Homo sapiens: one gene and its partners. The protein of the gene in region 2 interacts with the protein of the main gene of each other region in a pairwise test. Each region holds a gene or a part of one and is shown on either strand. Other genes may lie near its edges.

Evidence for each region. Proteins that work in one complex are often made in the same cells at the same time.
Region 1: the proteins of ATF6 (region 2) and NFYA interact in a two-hybrid assay, tested with the Homo sapiens proteins (one study listed by BioGRID).
Region 3: the proteins of ATF6 (region 2) and CRTC2 interact in binary tests that used the Homo sapiens proteins (3 or more experiments, as listed by UniProt).
Region 4: the proteins of ATF6 (region 2) and UBASH3A interact in a two-hybrid assay, tested with the Homo sapiens proteins (one large-scale study listed by BioGRID and IntAct).

The regions. Positions count from the first base shown.
Region 1 is NC_000006.12:41,086,474-41,089,973, forward strand, and holds part of NFYA (nuclear transcription factor Y subunit alpha), read left to right. Parts: intron 1-3,105; coding exon 3,106-3,237; intron 3,238-3,500. UniProt on the Homo sapiens protein: Component of the sequence-specific heterotrimeric transcription factor (NF-Y) which specifically recognizes a 5'-CCAAT-3' box motif found in the promoters of its target genes.
Region 2 is NC_000001.11:161,846,320-161,849,819, forward strand, and holds part of ATF6 (cyclic AMP-dependent transcription factor ATF-6 alpha), read left to right. Parts: intron 1-129; coding exon 130-261; intron 262-3,500.
Region 3 is NC_000001.11:153,952,113-153,955,612, forward strand, and holds part of CRTC2 (CREB-regulated transcription coactivator 2), read right to left. Parts: intron 3,055-3,500; coding exon 2,953-3,054; intron 2,878-2,952; coding exon 2,761-2,877; intron 2,205-2,760; coding exon 2,143-2,204; intron 1,495-2,142; coding exon 1,426-1,494; intron 1,258-1,425; coding exon 1,154-1,257; intron 861-1,153; exon of another isoform or gene 787-860; coding exon of another isoform or gene 768-786; intron 723-767; coding exon 693-722; intron 539-692; coding exon of another isoform or gene 524-538; coding exon 459-523; intron 335-458; coding exon 285-334; intron 151-284; coding exon 1-150. UniProt on the Homo sapiens protein: Transcriptional coactivator for CREB1 which activates transcription through both consensus and variant cAMP response element (CRE) sites.
Region 4 is NC_000021.9:42,431,402-42,434,901, reverse strand, and holds part of UBASH3A (ubiquitin-associated and SH3 domain-containing protein A), read right to left. Parts: intron 2,800-3,500; coding exon 2,700-2,799; intron 71-2,699; coding exon 1-70. UniProt on the Homo sapiens protein: Interferes with CBL-mediated down-regulation and degradation of receptor-type tyrosine kinases. Promotes accumulation of activated target receptors, such as T-cell receptors, EGFR and PDGFRB, on the cell surface.

The DNA of each region.
Region 1 (3,500 bases), on a different chromosome or scaffold from region 2:
CATAGCCTCCCTTACAATACTTAAGGCTTTAATCCCCTTTGTATAGGAGTTTTTTTTCTCATTAGTGTTGAGTAGCCATTTTTTAAAGAAGACTACTTCTTAACCTTTTTTGAATTGTATTCTCTATTTTAGAATCCTAGTAAAGCTTGCACCCTCTAAGAAAAAGTAGAGATGTCCAGTCTCATGAAAAATTCTGCATATAATTTTAGATTAAAATCCTTGGCCTGAGAAAGATACTGGAACCAGAGAGACAGCCAAGAAATAGATAGAAGAATATTGGAAGTTGGCATATAATAAAAGTGGTATAAACATATCAATGAAGAAATGGCTGAAGAATGATACAGAAAAGAAACTGATTTCTAATTCATACTGTATTTTAAAAAATATTTGCTAGGTGGATTAAAGATCTAAATGTAGAAAAGTAAACTTGGAAAATTCAAAAGAAAATATAAGAATTTTTATGCTATAGAGAAGGATATTTTTAAAAACAAATTGACTAAAACATAATATGCATTGAAATACATCAAATAAAAGTAAACAAGGTGAAAACTTGGAAAAGATATTTTTAATACATACAACCGAGTTTGTATTCAGAATATGTATAAATAACGTTTATGTATTTATACAAAAATAGGAAAATGGGCGAAGAATATGAATAGATGGAAGAGGAAATCCTAACAGCCAATATAAACTTAGAAATGAAGTTGGTTCACATAACCAGATAAATTTGTTTACTTATTTATTTGCCAATACTTTCTGAATGCCAATTATGAGCTGAGTATTTGGAAAAAATAATTCAGAAGACCTAGGCAATCTATCCCCTAACAAAGTAGGATCCATGAATGTCTCTAAGACATGGAACCCATTGACCTGTTTTTTTCACCTTCCTTCCATCAGTAGTCCTTTTTCCTATCAGCTGGTAGACTTTGTGATAACTTAAGGTTCTAGGCATGTTCTTCTTTCCAGACCAAGGTGGTCCCAAGTTGAAATTATGGATGGAAAGTGACCTGGCTATAAAAATCTATCTTTCTGAAAGTATCCTCCTTCCAGACTGCCATCTATGTTGAAGCAATGCTCAAATAAAAAAAGTTTGTTGATGGAATTAATGGTCAAAGAAGCAAAGAGAAGGTTACTTAGTACTAGCCATGTATTCTGGCTTTTAAGTTTGGGAGGTATTCTTGAATATAAAATACAAGACATTTTGAGCTATGGGGCTCTCCTCACTGCTTTCTCTTTTGCACTTAAAAAAAAAAGTGTTCACTAGTTATATGAAAATAGGATTTTGTACACCCAACATTTAAAGGGTTGTATTGCAGTTTTTTAGTTCCAAAATTTAGAGAAATATTTTTCAAGCTTCTTGTCAGGTTTCTGATAACACTCCTAATAAAGTGGCTATAGCCATTAAAAAAAAGAAAGAAGATAGATTTGGATAGCACACGATCCCTTGCTTTCCATAATTGCTTTATAAGGTTTAGCTATCCAATCCTAGGACCAAATAGGAGATACAAATTAAATCAACAAAAATTTGACAAACATTAATGACAGTAGTGAGTATTGGTAATTGGAAACTAATAGGAGGAATATAATCTGTCACATTGCCTTAATTATCTATTACCATATAACAAATTATCCTAGAAGTTAGCAGCTTAAAACAACAAACATTTGGCCGGTGCGGTGGCCCACACCTGTAATCCCAGCACTTTGGGTGGCCGAGGCGGGTGGATCACAAGGTCAGGAGATCGAGACCATCCTGGTTAACACAGTGAAACCCCGTCTCTACTAAAAAGACAAAAAAAAAATTAAGCCAGGCGTGATGGCGGACGCCTGTAGTCCCAGCTACTCGGGAGGCTGAGGCAGGAGAATGGCATGAACCCAGGAGGCGGAGCTTGCAGTGAGCCAAGATCACACCACTGCACTCCAGCCTGAGCCACAGAGCGACACTCCGTCTCCAAAAAAAAAAAAAAAAAAAAAATTTATTTTATAGTTTCTGTGAGTTAGGAATCCTGACACAGCTGTGTTGGATTCTTTCAAGGTCCTCTCAAGGCCCTTATCAAGGTGTTGTCCTGGGCTGCAGTCACATTTGACTAGAGTAGAATACATTTTGGGTTTTTTCTTTGTTTGTTTTTTTGAGACAGTTACTCGCTCTGTTGCCTAGGCTGGAATGCAGTGGTGCGGATCTTGGCTCACTGCAACCTCTGCCTCCCAGGCTCAAATGATCCTCCCACCTCAGTTCCCCAAGTAGCTGGGACCACAGGCATGTCCTACCATGCCTGGATAATTTTTGTATTTTTCAGTAGATACAGGGTTTTGCCATGTTGCCCAGGCTGGTCTCGAACTCCTGACCTAATCTGCTCGCCTCAGCCTCCTGAAGTGCTGGGATTATGGGCATAAGCCATTGTACCCGGCTTTCAGCATTTTTAATATATATAGTATTTCCTCTGTAAAAAAGTACTTCATCATTCACCAAAATGGCAAGATTAAAAAATAATAATAAAGCACTTTAGAGTGTATTTTATTTTTTTATTTTTTTGAGACGGAATCTCGCTCTGTCGCCCAGGCTGGAGTGCAGTGGCGTGATCTCGGCTCACTGCAACCTCCGCCTCCGGTTCAAGTGATTTTCCGGCCTCAGTCTCCCAAGTAGCTGGGATTACAGGCATGCACCACCATGCCCGGCTAATCTTTGTATTTTTAGTAGAGACAGGGTTTCATCATGTTGGCCAGGCTGGTCTCGAACTCCTGACCTCAAGTGATCCACCCACCTCGGCCTTCCAAAGTGCAAGGATTACAGGCGTGAGCCACCACACCCAGCCCAGAGTGTATTTTAAATATGCATGCTTTTCAATATATATAATCATACCACTGCTATCTTTCATAAAAACCGACATTGATTTGTTAATATCAGGTATCCAGACAGTGTCGAAATTCCCTATTTGTTTCATAAATGGAAAATAAGTTGTGTCTACTTCATAATGGAGGGCAGAGCAGGACTTCTTTTTTCCTCTTCAGAACATTTTCTGCTTTCTAGAGAAATGTGGATAACTCTCGGGGACCAAAGGAGACCAGTGTCAGTAGAGTACAATCCTTTTTTTATGTTCTTTTCTGCAGATACAGTTGGTCCCACCTGGACAGATCCAGATCCAGGGTGGACAGGCTGTGCAGGTGCAGGGCCAGCAGGGCCAGACCCAGCAGATCATCATCCAGCAGCCCCAGACGGCTGTCACTGCTGGCCAGACTCAGGTAATTCCACTAGCTCTGTCACACAGGAGCAAAACTGATTTGGAAGAGTCAGATAACTGAGTCAGATATTTCATGTATAGCATGTATAGTAGAAAAGGGGATGAAAACCATAAAAAAATATATTTTTGGCCGGGCGCGGTGGCTCATGCCTGTAATCCCAGCACTTTGAGAGGCCGAGGCAAGCTGATCACAAGGTCAAGAGATCAAGAACATCCTGGCCAACATGGTGAAGCCCCGTCAAAATACAAAAATTAGGTGGGCAT
Region 2 (3,500 bases):
CTATGCCTAGCATTTTTGTTACGTGCATGGATCTGCAAAGGAATTGTGGTTTGTTTCACAGCTGCATGTAGCAGGCATATGTGTGACATATTTTTATTTCAGCTATTATTTCCTGTTTTTTATTTTCAGCATGTTGGAACAGGATTCCAGGAGAATGAACCCTAGTGTGAGCCCTGCAAATCAAAGGAGGCACCTTCTAGGATTTTCTGCTAAAGAGGCACAGGACACATCAGATGGTATTATCCAGAAAAACAGCTACAGGTAAGATGGCATGCATCTATCTTTTGGCCTAAGTGATTTAATGAAGCTGAAACAAGAGAATTATCTGTAGTATAACATTGCATCTAAATTGTTCGTGTATATTTTGAGTAGTAGAACACATAAATTACTGAAACCATTAATACATTTTACTTTTAATATTGTAAAATTAAATTTACTTTGAAACCTTTTGTAGTTTTAAAATTCCTATAGAGATGTAATCTTAAAATCTCAGTTTGTGTGCATTAATATACATATTGAAATATATACATATTATATATAATGTCTTTAATAATTATTTTATCTATCATGTGTTTATACATATAATACATCTAATATTTGTTACTGTCTCACCTGTGGATGGATATGATATGGTGGAATAACATGATTGAACCTATTTGCAGTCATTAGGTAAAATCATTTATACTCATTTATTGTGATCTTTGTTGAATCCCTCCCTTGTTGCAATTTAATAATGACTTGATAAATTTCCATATTGCTTGTCAATAGCAAAAGGCTTTAATTGTATAAAAATGCAATTTCTATATTATGTTAACTAGAAGAAGGTATAGTGGACATTTTTATAGTTGTATACTTTTTGATAAACATTTCCCTGTGTTATTTAGAATTTGTATTAGAGCCAAATGGAGCCAGGTCCTTGACTAACAAGGCAAAGGGAGGTCACAGTATGGTAACTATTGCACAGTATAATGCTTGAAAATTATTACAGATTTGTTTACTTTTATCTCTTTAAGGATTTGTAGGTTGAGGGCAATCTTTCTTCCTGATTTTTACTGTGTTACATCCATACTGTTGAAAGATGATCACCACAATCCTGCAGGCTTGTCTCCACTTAGCCTTCCTGAAAAAACTGTTATTTTTGTGGAGTACAGTATGCCAAGTCAGTGGAGGACCCAAAGGATTTTATGGCAGTAGCTGCAACGCAACATAGCAATGATAGATGTCATAATGTTGGAAAACATAGCATTTCCTGCTTTTTTACATGCCAAAATTCATCATACTTCTTAAAATATTCACCTTGATGATCTCTTAACGGTGCCCCTGAATATTGGTAGAGTTTAATAGTATATTTAATTTTCATAAGTAATTTGTGCAGGTTTGCCCTACGTGTTCTATAATTTTGAATTCTGTTAGTGTCCACATAAGATCCATCAAAAATTAAATTTAAATCTAATAGCCTTTGGATTTACGAGAGTTGAGATAGCGTCTTGCTAAAGAATAGAACAAGTTATGGATTGAATGCTTGAAATTACAGTTCAGGTAAGCTTTACAAGAATATTATTTATTCTGCACTAACTGCAGCAAGTAGAAGCCTTCCACATTAGCATAAGATAACATGGTGGCTCCCAGAAAGCATAGTAGTCTGATCATACTAGTTCAAACTAAAAGTCTGAATGACTTTCTGGCTGAAATTTATCAGCTTTCAGAGTAGTACATGGGATGCAAGCTATTTTTTCCCTCCCTTCTCCAAAGTCACCATTGAGTGAATAATCTGGGTTACTGGTCTTGGGGAAAAAAAAAAACCAAAAAACAACCCAGGAAAGATTATGGATTCTTGATTCCATGCAAGTCCTTTGAAATATTTTTCAGCAACTTGAGAGATTTAAATAAATGTCAGTCCATTAATTTGATGTTCTTGATTTTATCAGTATAAATACTGAATAAAAGATACCAAAAAATGTTTGTGAAACATTTGAAAGCACCTAATATTACTTTGTTCTGTGTTCTGAACTGAATTTTAGATGTTTTATCTATTTTCAGCCGTGATACCTATACATTTTTTTTAATGCAGCTTACTTTATGTTTCTTTTTCTAAGGAGAGCTATGAGACATGGTTCAAATAAAAAATGAGTAGATTCTAATCCCATAGTTTATAATATTGTATTAGCCTATCATTTAGTAATTAACTGCTTATATTTTTTCAGTCATAGAAATGTGTGGCATATAAATAGTATGACCATATAATGTTCTATCAAACTGGGACACTCTTAAGAAGGAAAGGTAGTGCTAGTAATAATTACATCAGAATACCAGTACTGCTGTCTTGGATAAATGAGAAAGGATGGTCACCCTATATAAGATGTCACCCAGAACTGATCTTTACTCCAAGAATTCTCATTAACTCTAGCTCCCTAGCACTGTCCTTTACTTTATTTACTTTAATGATTTATTTGTTGAATTTTTTTCTCTTGGCATAAAATGTTTGCAAGCAGACTCGAACTCTGACTGTTCCTGGGCTAATGTTGGTCTAATTGTCTCCAGATTGTATGTTGGCTGATTTTCTCTCTCCTTTAACTCCACCCAATCCTTGTCCTGGTATTTCTCCTATCAGACTTTTTTTTTTTTTTTCCAAAGAATATTTTTGGCTGATAGAACAAAGCCAGTTAGCACAGATGTGCAGAAATCATTACTAGAGTTCAGATCACAAATATATTTTCAAAAGCAGTTTTGGACTTTTCTCATGGACTACAGTGTTTGTATTTTTCTAAGTATGCAGGCATGATTTTTAAAATAATGCGTATGTCATAGATTTATAAGAAGAGGTGTTAAGCAGCCTCCTCTTAGAGGCATTCAGATTTATCAAACACAAGACAGATACTTTTTTTCCTTCTCACTCAATGCTTCATTTTAGGCTGATCCTTTTGTGTTTGCATTCATTACCTGTGCACCAACATGTCTGTTTTATTCCAAACAACTTAAACCTACTTAACCCTTACAGCCACAAGAGAGGACATTGAGAATATTCCTGGTGCAAGTTGCAGGGAAGAATGTTCTATATATCCTCTGCTATTGTTTCTTTTCTCTCGTGTGTGGCATAAATAGCTATCTCTAACTTTTAACTTGAAGTTAGCCTTCCACTCTGCCAGAGTTATTTCTGTTAAGGGGCCAGTGCTTTCTGCCATCTTACTTGCCCTTTCCTCAGCATTTGGCTGTGTGGGTCATTTGCTCCTTGAAAGACTTTCCTTTTGTGTTACTATGGTTTTTTAGTTTCCTTTTTTTATTGGCTGCTGCTTCACAGTAATCTTTGTGGGCTCTTTTTTTACCCAACTCTCAAGGTTTGGAACTGTAAACTTTTTTTATTTTCTTTCTGCCTAGGTGACTCATCTATAATTTCATGCACAGTTCATATCTATATGTCCTGATGACTCTCAAATTTATGTTTTCAGTCCAGACTTCTCTTCTGAGTCTCCAGAGTCACATATCCAATAGTCTCTTTGACA
Region 3 (3,500 bases), 7.9 Mb from region 2:
AGGCTAGGGTAGGCTGTCTCTTCAGGGTCCAGGGGGGTGGGCAGTGGTGGGGGAAAGTGCAGGTTGGTGAGGTCAGGTAGGGAGCCCCCCGTGTTCATGGCAGGTGGGAGGACAGGCACATTGGCAGGCTGGTCAGGAGATGGAAAGATGCTAGGGGAAGGAGAGAAAAAGAAAGATGTAAATAGGAGGGTGGGTGCAGTGGTCAGGGAAGAGCAGAGATCAGTCTCCTACATCTCCCTGTACTTCCTTCCCCCACCTCTCAGCCAACCTCAGGGAGTACTTACTTAATTCCAGGGACTTCACAGGACCGAGGTCGGGAAGAGGATGAGGATAGCTGAGGAGAGAAGGGAGAATATGGAAAATGAGGACAGTGCTCAGCAGAGAACCCTGGAAGGCCTGCCCCATGGCAAGGGGATAGCAGAGAGACTAGTGGGTGACACCCGGTGGCCTCCTCCTACCTTCTTAGCATCCCATGGCTTCAGCAAATGCTTGTCATCTAGCAAGTTCTCCTCAATAGCAGGTACTTGAAAGAGAAAGACTGGTGATGGGAGAGTTGGAGAAAGAGCCAGTAAGGCAGGACAGGAAGCAGAAGCAGGTGGGAAGGAGTCCTGCTCCCTGAACCTGCACACAATCCCAACACCAGCCCAGAAATTCTTTGGCATTCAGTACCCACAGCAGTGAGGAACACATACCTTTGGGGTCCATTTCACCATCCAGAATACCTGCAAGGGATACAGTGGCATTGGCTGCAGTGCTCACTTGCCTACCTGCTTTAAATAGCTCCATGGAGGCCGGGTATGGTGGCTCATGCCTGTAATCCCAGCACTTTGGGAGGCCGAGGCAGGTGGATCACGAGGTCAGGAGTTCAAGACCAGCCTGGCCAAGATGGTGAAACCCCATCTCTACTAAAAACACAAAAAATTAGCCAGGCACAGTGGCAGATGCCTGTAATCCCAGCTACTCAGGAGGCTGAGGCAGGAGAATCGCTTGAACTCGGAGGGCGGAGGTTGCAGTGAGCCGAGATCACGCCACTGCACTCCAGCCTAGGCGACAGAGTGAGACTCCGTCTCAAAAAAGAAAGAAATAATAAATAAATAAATAAATAAATAAATAGCTCCATGGTTACTCCCAACCCTGGGACAGGGCCACTTACCCCCACGTCGGCTGGGCAGGATGCTGGGAGGTGTGGGGCCTGGGTAGGTATCCTGGGGACTGGGGTTCATCACACTTGTATGAAGGGCAGAGTCAGAGCTTGTCCTATGGGGGGAGCAGGAATGAGCTGACACCAGTGACAGTCTTCCTGGTCCCTAAGCCCTGCCCAGCAAGGGAAAACACTAGCTGGTCTGGAACAGGGTGGGGGTGAGGGAGCAGGGCCCCAGAAACTACAGATAAGAGATCTGGCCTAAAGAAGGCAAAAGCCATCACCTGTTAAGTGCAGATGGTAGTCGAAACAACTGCCCCTTCTCTGCAGGGAAATTGCCCCAGGCCATCGTCCTGGGGTAGAAAAACAAAGTCATGAGGAGGAAGGCTGGCAGTGGACAAGAAGGTGGGCATAGGGGTTGGAAAATGTGGGGCAGCTAAGGTGGAAGTAAAGATGGCTGAGCACCCAGATCATCCCCTTTTCTTTCTGGTTCTTCTCCTGCCTATGATTGACCCCTCCCCCAGTCAATCTAAGAGAGCTGGAAACTTCTCTCTGCCAGGACCAGCTGAATGGGAATCTTGGAGCCCAGCAGCATTCCTGGGTATGAGCATTGAAAGTGAGATGGACAAGGGGAGAGTTTAAGAAATCTAAAAGTGCCAGAACACTACATCTTGCACCCACCCTTGACAGAAGGTTGCCATTTTCACCTGCCCCTCTGCCATTCTCCCCTCCCCCTTACACACACACCCCAGCCTGGCTATGGTTCCCATTGGTTCTGCTCTGGCTGGACTGGGAGGCTTGACCACTAGTGTCAACATGGCCAAGGCTGGACTCTGACCCACCTACTCCAACTGTCTCCACCTCTCTCAGCCCTGGCGTTATAGGAAGAGGTACTGTTGAAACCTTAGCCCAGTAATCCCAGCCCCAACCCAGAAGGGGCAACTCCTTCCAGAAACACGTCAGAGAGTAGGCAGGAGCTTCTGCCCGCCCTGGACACTTACCTTCGCCAGCTAGACTCTGGGGGAGGAGATAAGTAGGCAGGACTATAGGGAGAGCTGTCAATGTGAACAGCACCAGTTAAGGAAAAAAGTAGAGAGGACAGATGAGAGAGGCCAAATGAGGAAAGAACAATGAAGGCAGCAGATAAGTTGTTTCAAGAAACTCATACCTTTCTCCTCTTCTATAAGGGACAACAATAGGATCAAAGAATGGAAGAGAAAAAGGGAATCAGGTCTAAAGGGGCTGAAAAAATCCAGGAGAATGTTCAGGCAGGGCTTGGAGGAGACAGTTATGCAGGTCTCTGAGACTGAAAACTTAGAAATCTGAGAAGAGACCCAATCTCCTTTAGCAGGAGACAAGGAAGGCTTGCCTCTGGCAGCAAGCTGATGTGAAGACAGCCAGAGCCAGCCAGAGACAGGGGGCACAGCCTCAGGAGCAAAACTCCTTGTCACAGGAGCAGGTGCTGACGCAGGGGCTATGGTCGCTTTTCAGGGAAGCTGGGTAAAGAAGAGCTCCAAGAGAAGGAAGGGACGCACAACACTTCAAGTGCTTCCTATGAGTCCCTGAGGAACCCCATCCCACTACCTTTCAGACACTCCCAAGTCCCCTGTGAAGGATATGTGGCGGGTGTATCGGCGAAGTGGGGACACCATTCTTCGAGGATCTCGCTGCACCCGTTCCACCAGCCCATGGTGCCGAGTGCTCCGAGATGAATCCAAAGGTGAGTGGAGGGGGCTCTGCCAAAAAGGACAGAAGTCAGCAGAGGAAGCAGCCTAAGAAACTCCACTCCTCCCTGGCTGGGGTCTACTCACCTGGAACTCGGCCAGGCCAGAGCCAATCTGGTTAACATTGGGCAGAGACCCACCATAATGAGAGCTCCTTGTGTATGCCAGTCGCAGTTTTTGGGCCTGTAACTGAGACATGGGGAACAAGTGGGAATGTCAGGAGGGTCCTGAGCACTATTTCCTTCAGCCATCCTTGCCATCTCTGTCACCAGGATATGCTGCTGCCGCCACTGCTTTTAAAATATCTAGGCCAGGCACAGTAGCTCACACCTGTAATCCCAGCACTTTGGGAGGCCGAGGCAGGCGGATCACAAGGTCAGGAGATCGACACCATCCTGGCTAACACCGTGAAACCCTGTCTCTACTAAAAATACAAAAAATTAGCCGGGCGTGGTGGCGGGCGCCTGTAGTCCCAGTTACTCGGGAGGCTGAGGCAGGAGAATGGCGTGAACCTGGGAGGTGGAGGTTGCAGTAAGCCGAGACTGTGCCACTGCACTGCAGCCTGGGCAACAGAGAGAGACTCTGTCTCAAAAAAAAAAAAAAAAAAAAAGGATCACTTCAGCCCAGGAAGTAGA
Region 4 (3,500 bases), on a different chromosome or scaffold from region 2:
AAGTCTTTGATCCCACGACTCCGTCTTGGCAGACTGCAGGGGAAATTCAGGTCTGGCCTGTAGTATTTCCCTGAAGTATAAATAAGCATCAGACGTTCAGTTTCATCAAGTTAGTACAGATTTGTTCCACAAAACTCCCAAGACCAAGACCCACTCTAACAGCAATGTTATTATTGAAATTATTGTCAACTGTGTTGTTTCTGAACATTCTCTGCAACGTGGCTTCAATTTGAGAAGAAAGTGCTGCTCAGCTGTGCACACAACATTTTCTCAAATGCAGACAACTTAGGTTTCAGCCCCAGGAACTATGCAACCCTCTTTGTCCTCCCAAAATGCCCCATGAAGATTCACTCTTACATTTTCCTGATGAAGAACCTGATAAAGTGTCTCTATGACTAGTTTAGTGTAACTCGGTAAGAATCTGAAGTTGGCATCAATGATCCATCCCCCTAGCTTTAAACGTATCCTTCTTGCTCAGGGGACAGAGTGCTTGAGCTGGAGATGCCTGTGTTGTGCATTCTTTAGTCAATTGCTTGAAGCCAGGCTGGAAGTGGGCTCACTGGGACTGTCTCCCACCAGAGGCTGCCCGGTGCCAGGGTTCACGTGGAGTTTGACCTTGAGTTCTAAGATCTGACAGTCTGGTAGCAAATCCTGGCATCACCATCTCCTCACTGTGCAGCCAGAAATAAATGACTTCATCTCTCTTATCAGTAAAAAACAGGGAAAGAGTAGCGATTGCGAGGTGTCAGTGAGGTAACACCCATAGCCCAGAGTCTGACTCAAGAGGGAGTGGTCAACGAGTCGGGGCACTGGTCTCATGTCACCACGTCAGGATGACTGATTATCCTCACACAGGACACCACGACACACTGCTCCCTCCAGTGCACTCTGGTTTGCCTTCACATTCTCCAAAGGGACCCCAAGCCTCCTGGTTATTAGGAGGTTCCAGCAGCCACACTGACCTTCCTGAGACCTGCTCTGCCATACATAGCAGGCCCTGCCCTTTGCACCCCAGAATATGCCAGGCCCCTTCATCCTGGCCCACAGCCTTGCACAAACCCAGAGTCAGGGGGCAGTGGGGGGCAGCAGGGGTCAGCGGGGGGCAATTTTTCATGCCTGCATTTTAGTTTCCATATAGGAGTTTTCTGAAGACTCCCTCCCTGGGATTTCCATGGGCAGAGACTCTTGTTTGAACACTGCATTTTAGAGGTGTTTATTCAATGCCAACATTAGCTCTTGGGAAAGGCAGTTTTAAAATCAGAGAGAAAGTCCATCAATTTCATTGTGTTCTCAAAGGCATCTGTGATCCCCCTCTAAAATGTCAAGACACTCCATTTAGGTATTTTGCTGTCATTGACACTTCAGCTGTGATCACTCTGGGGGCAGAGGGCAGAGCTCAGGAGAGGACAAGGATGTGGGGCAAGGTCAGGTCCTGATGGGAGCAGAGTCTGTGTGGAATATGGGGTGAGGTGAGGGGCCCTGTGAGGATGTGGGTGCCTGGGCCAAAAGTGAGCTGAGCTGGGGAGAGGCCAGTAGAGCCCCCCAAATCTCCCTTGTGTTCCCTGAGGTTGGTCACCTTGGGGGAGGACGTGGCTATACCTCCTTGTGATTTATTAAACCCTGCAATATACAAAATTCAGACAAACTAGATGTAATTCTTCACTTTATCAAGGGCCTCTCTACCTTGGGAAAAGATCCACCAGGAGTTTCCTTTCAGATGGGGATTTCCAGTGCCTTTAAAATATTTTCCCTTATAAGTGACTTGATCTTTTGTCCAGATGACCAAATATTTTTTCTTTTTCTATGAAGTTCAATAACTATTTTTGGTGTTGATTGTTTTGTATTGGTTCTCCCCACCATGGACAAGGTGTGTCAGTTCAATCTATAGCTTCAGTAATTCAATAGCTAAAAAAACTGTTTTATTGAAAAAAAGTTTCTTATATGTTTGTTAATGCATCCTGATAGCCACCTATTGTCTTATTGTTGCTTTAAGCTCTTGTATCTTTACTTGATCTTGTTTTATAGAGGTGACCATATTATTAGCTCTGTGAGTTCTTGGAAATATGCTTGATCATGATGTTATCTGCTCAGAATCTTTTCTGGTGTGTGATTGTCATCTGCCAATGGTTTTCCCTACTCATTTACCACTTTCTTGGGTCTGCTGGGCTTCTGGAGGGGGATCCCAAAAGGGTTCGGCTAACCTAGCAACTGTGAATTGATTTTGTCACTACATTCAATGCCTTAATTTATGTAATGGGTCATGGCTTAGAAATTGTGACACTACAGGCTTCCTATTAGGAGATTAGCATTGATGTGGACATTGATCATCAATACAGAGGTTGGCTTGTGGGTATGTGTATTTATAAGCACTATTCTTACTTCCTGGCATTCAGAGGAGAAAAGCTGGGGTGTGCAAGAGGCATGTTCAAGAATACGTCCATCTGTTAAGCAGCATAGCCAAAAATTACATCAGTTAAGATTAGGTTGGAGAGGTTCCAACACAGACACTCAAATGCATACATGGAACACCCCTGGAGGAAGATGTAGCAGGCACGTTTTCCACACATACAGTCTACACATGGTCATTCTACAGAATGGTGCCTCAGGGGATCTGGTGCCATGTAAGGTCATTAAGAAGGAGATCTCATTGGTTAGATCTACAGTGTTTCTGTCCGTAGACCCGCCTGAGTGTGACCTACCATCAGGAGTGGAGCATTGCTGCAGCCATGCCTTCCCGAAGATCTGATCCACTCTCTCCCCGTGGCGAACCACCAGCACGCTCTTCCTTGCAACGGTAGCCTGGGGGGTGGGGCAGGAAGCAAGGCACATGCAGTTTAACATCCAACTCACTGGACTTGCACCAATGGCAGCTCTCCCAGTCACCCAGCAACTGCGAGGGAATCTTTTCCTTCGTTAGTCAATAGCTCAGCCCATTTTGCCCAAATCATTAGAATGAAAGAGGACATGAAATTGACAATCTCTTCAATTTCTTCCAATGTTTTATTTTCTGGGCATTCTAACATCAAGAAAATGAAAAGAGACAGGATTGGCCCCTATCATGACACATCCGTTTTTCTACTTTTCTGTCTTTTCTAAGTCCTTATCATTCCCATAGAGACGTCTTAGGACATTATCCCTATCTATATTATAATATGTATTGTTATAGTATAGATTACCTATCTATATATCTAGTCTCCTCTCTTGCTGGCACACTTCTTCTGAGAAACCCTCCAGGACTGCCCTGGTGTTGACCTGTTGAGGGGCCGTCCTTTTATGGCTCCCAGGTATGAATTCTGCTTCTGAGCACCAAGGGGAGAAGCCCTCATCCATCCCCTTGCTGTTTTCCCATAGCTGGTCATTCTCTGTTTGGCTGAATGCTAAAGGAAAACAGTACTTTATAGTTTATTTACTTCTTCTCGGCATGAGACTGGCCTTGGCGGTGGCCAGCAGCTTCGAGCCAGGGACAGCAGCTCTCTGGCACCTTCCTCCCCAGCCTCAGG